Linked DNA regions of Homo sapiens: region 1 is linked to region 2. Evidence: fine-mapped expression QTL. Tissue or cell type: whole blood. Region 2 holds a variant in brackets; the other region holds the start of a gene. All regions are shown on one strand. Distances are from middle to middle.

What was found. PIP is the estimated chance that this variant, and not a neighbour inherited with it, causes the effect. A credible set is the group of variants that fine-mapping cannot tell apart.
Region 1: TSPAN2 starts here. The variant in region 2 is the best candidate, but not a certain one, in a credible set for the expression of TSPAN2 in whole blood (INTERVAL, PIP 0.82).

Annotation. Positions count from the first base shown.
Region 1 is chr1:115,088,284-115,090,947 of GRCh38, forward strand. TSPAN2 (tetraspanin 2) reads right to left here and starts at 1,220. Exons shown (of 8, transcript NM_005725.6): 1 at 1,081-1,220. The coding sequence starts at 1,149.
Region 2 is chr1:115,041,568-115,044,415 of GRCh38, forward strand. No RefSeq gene overlaps it. Among named protein-coding and RNA genes, the nearest start is that of TSHB, 13 kb to the left of the region's middle. The variant C/G (reference allele first, on the strand shown) is at 1,571.

The sequences.
Region 1 (2,664 bases), 47 kb after region 2:
AGACAACGTCCCCCAGAGCAGATAGGACAGCCACCTCCTCCAACCTGGTAGTTTCAAAGCACCCAGGCCCTGGCTGCTCTCAAACCTCTTTATCCAATGTTTCCCCTCAGGGTCTAGCTGAGCAGTTACACTGGCTGACATTCTCTTAAGAAAGCCCAAGAGGAAATGTGCAGAAAAGACAATTTTCAGACCTTGTCTCACAGTCCTGCAGGCCCTGGGACAGGGTATCCAGGGATGTAGGTCTGGTCTAGCTGTATCCCTGTCTCGATAATATAGGAGACAAGGGTCAAGATCCTATCTCTCTGTGAACCATGAATCCTGGGAACGCTGTCAGTTCAATCAAACCCTGCAAAGTTGAATGAGATCATCTCTGGGAGAATTAGTATTTAGCAGAGGCTGCGGCTGGGGGTTGTGGAGAGCTGCTGCTGCCCTTTAGAAGCCCTTCCATTCCCCATCCCCTTCTCAGAAGAGAACCCACCACCTCCTCTCACCCAGGGGTACTCTTACCCTGATGCCCAGAAAAAGGACGACGCCCCCCCACCACAATTTTCACTCCTATCTCCAATTTCCTAAACAAAACCATCACAGCCAGGTACAGTGTCCACACACTCGAATGGAGCACCACCCCAGGCAGCCCCAGGGCAGGGGTTTCTCTCCCATCACCCTGGCCAGGCCCTGGTTCCAGCTGGTAGGCAGAGTGAAAAGGGGGTGTGTGCACGGGAGACTGGAGGGGAACAGGGACCCAAGTCCTCCGGAGGTGAGGAGAGGCTGGGTCCCCGCACCTGGGGTCACTAGCTGGGAGATAAAAACCAAGGCAGGTGGGGGTTCCTTCCAGGAAAGAGCCACACGGTGTCTCTCCCCTTCTCACCATTTCTCATTGATCAACCTTCTGTCTTCCCGTTCTCTCCCTTCCATCCCTCCCCTCCCTCTTTGTTTGCCTTCTCCTCGCCTCCGCGTTTGAGCACCCAGCCCTCCCCACGAGCGCGACTCGGACGCCGCAGTCAGCAGCTCGGGGACCCCGGCCCCGCGCCCGCCACCCGGCCCCCTGCCCTGACCGGCCCTCCCGGCTCCTGGTCTCACCCAGAAGAGCAGGTTGAAGCCAAGCAGCAGGTACTTGATGCACCGCAGGCCCCCGCGGAAGCGCCCCATGCTGCGGCCCGGCGGCGGGATCCCCAGTCCCCAGGCCCGCGCTACGAGCGCGGGGAGCGGCAGGCTCCGGCGGGGAGGGGGCGGAGCGGGGAGGACCGGGGCGGGGCCTCCGGGGGGCGGGGCGGGGCCCGGCGGGGAGGGGCGCGTGGACCCCAAGCGGCGTGGCTGGCGACGGGTGGGGGCGCCAGCGGGTGGAGATCGAGCAGCCCGAGGGAGCACGTTCGCTCTTCTCCCGGACCCAGGGACCACCTTCCTTCCCTCCAGTGGGCGCACCGCCGCCGGCTATCGGAGCACCTGCAGGGCGGGAGCGCCCACCGGGGACTGGGGACCCATTTAATCAGCGCCCTGTGCGGAGACCGGTTTGAGGCCCGGGCGATGCTTGAGGGATAAGCACTTGGTCTCGTGGCTATGGAAATCTAGGAAGGTGACCTCGGGTAGAAGAGCTAAGTGGGGTCGGAGGTTGCCCCGAAGCTGGCAGGACCAGTCGCGGGGCACCTGACTGAGTGTCCAGGGCTGCGGCTCCGCGGCGCGGAGCAAGCACACAAGCAGCTTCTAGGGGACCCTCCCTCCGGCCCCTCCCCCCTCCTCGGGGGACTCTTACCTTAATAGGCAAGAACTGAGAGAGGGTGCGGGAGGCGGCGCCCTGAGTCCTGTGGGCTGCCCTCAACCCAGCCGGCCAGTGGAGGGAGTCTGACTTCTCATGTCCTGCCGGGTTCCACTGATCGGAGGGCTTGGAAGGATCCCAAATTTTCGGGATCTTAATTATGATGTGGAGATGGGAGAAAGGGGAAGGGGGCGGTTTTTGTTTTGCTTTGTTTTTATTAAGTTAGGCTGTTGGCAGGAAAATCAGACTCCCACTTCCATTGACTAAGTGTCTACAATATGTGGTGTCAGACAGTATGGGGGAGACAAGAAAGCAAAATTCGGAGAGCTTATGCATAAATTCAGCAAAACTTTGAGTGCCTATTATAGGCCAGACATAGTAGCAAGCCCCAGGGACTCAACAATGAGGAGACAGCCAGGCCCAGAACCACAGTCTCTGGTGTTGGAGACAGATCTGTAAGCAAATAGGGTGAGGAGAGAAGGGCTGGGTGCTAGACAGGTGTGCCTGGCCTGACTGCCTTAACCAGAAAAGGCATTGCTAAGGAGAGGGGCCTGATCTGGTCTAGAAGACGGAGCCCAGGCGGAAAAGATCAGTCCAGGAAGACAGCATGCGCAAAAGCACAGAGCTGGAGAGAACAAGGCCTCCAAGGGAGTTCTGAGAACCGCAGTTAGCCCGAGTGAAGCCTGGTGGGGGCAGAGTGAGTCAGGAAGGCAGGAGCCAAATCACAGCTTTCAGTCGGCTGACCAATGTGCCAAACTGTCATTGGCCCCGAGTGTCCCCACGTGCAACATGGAGGTAATAGTACTCCCCTCATAGAGTTGTGAAGATAAATGAGTTAGTATTTGTGAAGTGCCTAGAACAGTGCCTGGCACAGATTAAGTACTGCATAAGGGTTAGTATTATTGTATCAC
Region 2 (2,848 bases):
AGCAGCCATGGGCCTTGAGTGTCCTAGTCCTATGCTGGTTTGGGAGGTCATGGGTATCAGATGCAACTCAGCGCACTGCCAGCTGCAATGGCCAGAGTGCTTGAGTCACCCCTCCCACAACACCAAGTGGCCAACCCCAGAGAGGGACTCCTGCTTGGGGGAAAGAGAGGGAAGAGAGTGAGGGACTTTTCCTGGGTATCCAGGGACTTCCCTTATTTTTTCCAAGTCCATCAGGGATGGGTATCCAGGAATCTGTAAGGAATCTTAGTGTACCTGGGCTTTGGACACCCTCTAGTGCTGAAATAGCTGTAATGACACAGGCTTACTGAACTCAAGACTCAGCTGCCTTTGAATTCTTAGAAGGCCTTCTGAAAAAGGATGAGGATAAACAAGGCCAGACTATGAAGACTGGAATAAATACCCAACTCTTCAATGCCAAGACATCAATGAGCATCCAAAAGCATCCAGCACAAAACTTCAGGAAAATATGACCTCACCAAACAGACTAAATAAGGGGTCAATGGCCAACATTGGAGTGGTGGAAATATGTGATATCTCAGATAGGAAATTCAAAATAGATGTTTTGAGGAAGCTCAATGAACTTTAAGAAAACAGACAGAAAAAATTCAGAAATTTATTAAAGACATTTAACAAAGACATTGAAATAATAATAATAAAAAAGAAATAGAAATCCTGTAGCTGAAAAGTACAACTGATTAACTGAAAAATGCATAATCACAGTGTCTCAACAGCAGAACTGATCAAGCAGAAGAAAGAATGAGTGATTTCAAAGACAGGCTATTTGAAAACACAAAGTCAGAGGAGAAAAAAGAAAAAAGATTGAAGTACATTACGAGATCTGGAAGATAGCCTCAAAAGGACATATCTAAGAGTTACTGGCCTAAAGAGGAAGTAGAGAAAAAGATGGGGTAGAAAGTTTATTCAAAGAAATAATAGATCACTTTCTAAACCTAAAGAAAGTTATGAATATCCAGGCACAAGAAGGTTAGAGAATACCAAGCACATTCAACCCAAATGAGACTACCCTGAGGTATACAATGATTATGCTCTCAAAGGTAAAGGATAAAGAAAGGATTCTAAAAGCAGCAAGGGCTGCTTTTCTTTTGAAGCAAATAACATATAGAGGAGCCCCAATATGTCTTGCAGCAGACTTCTCAGCAGAAACCTTACAGGCCAAAAGGAAGTGGGAAGACATATTCAAAGTGCTGAAGGAAAAAAACTTTCAACTGAGAATATTGTACCCAAAAAAGCTATCTTTCAAACATGAAGGAGAAATAAAGACTTTGCTAGACAAACAAAAGCTGAAGGAGTTCATGAGCACCAGATCTGACTTACAAAAGATGCTAAAGGCAGTTCTTTAATCTGAAAGAATAGAATGCTAAAGTGTGACAAGAAATCATCTGAAGGTATAAAGCTCATTGGTAAAAGTAAATACACAAATTCAGAATATTCTCATACATTAACTGTGGTGAGTAAACCACTCATATCTTTGGTATGAAGACTAAAAGACAAATCTATCAAAAATAATAACTACAACAATTTGTTAAGA[C/G]ATAAGCAACATAAGGGCGGGTGTGGTAGCTCATGCCTGTGATCCCAGCATTTTGGGAGGCCGAGGCGGGTGGATTACTCGAGGTCAGGAGATTGAGACCAGACTGGCCAACATGGTGAAACCCTGGCTGTACTAAAAATATAAAAAAAATTATCCAGGCATGGCGGCAGGCACCTGTAATCCCAGCAACTAGGGAGGCTGAGGCAGGAGAATAGCTTGAACCTAGGAGGCAGAGGTTGCAGTGAGCTGAGATCACGCCACTGCACTCCAGCTTGTGTGACAAAGTAAGATTACATCTCAAAAAAAAAAAGCGAGAGAGAGATAAACAACATAAAAAGTTAAAAATGGAGACATTAAAAAGTCAAAAAGTGGGGGAAGATGAGTTAAATTGTAGGGTTTTTTAGTTTCTTCTAAAAACAACTAAAAAACTTGGTTGTTTGCTTCTTTTCTTTGTGATGAAAGTTACCAGTTTAAAACAAGTTATTATAACTATAAGATTTTTTGTCTCATAACAATCACAAAGCAAAAACCTATAATAGATACAGTAAAAATAAAAAGCAATGAATTAAAATGTATTACCAGGGAAGATAACCACAGAGAAAGATAGTAAGAATAAAATAAAGGACTTAAGAACCAGAAAACAAACAATAAAATGGCAGTAGTGTTTACCTATCATTAATTACATTGAATGTAAACATGGACCAAATTCTCCAATTTAAAAGACACAAGGTGACTGAATGAATGAAAAAACAAGACCCAACACTTTGTCTCTTTTTAAGTCAGAAACTGCAAAAAGAGACAAAGAAGGTCATTATGTAATGGTAAAGGGATCATTCTGCAAGAGGATATAACAATTGTAAATATAATTGTACCCAACATCAGAGCACAAAAAGAGAGCTAGATTCCAGTACAATAATAGTAGGGAACCTCAAAACCCAACTTTTGCCAATAAATAGATCATACAGAGAGAAAATTAAAAAAAAGAAACATGAAAAGTCAACTACACTCTAGACCAAATGGACATAACTGACATTTTCAGAACACTCATCCTACTGCTGCAGAATACGCATTCTTCTTGCCAGCATATGAAAACATTCTCCAGGAAAGACAACATGCAAGGGCACAAAACAAGTCTTAGCAAACTCAAAAAATTGAAATAATATCAAATATTCAGGCTGCAATGGAATAAAATCTAGAAATCAATAACAAGAAGAACACTGAAAATTGAATAAATACATGAAAATTAAACAACATGCTCCTCAATGACCAATGGGTCAA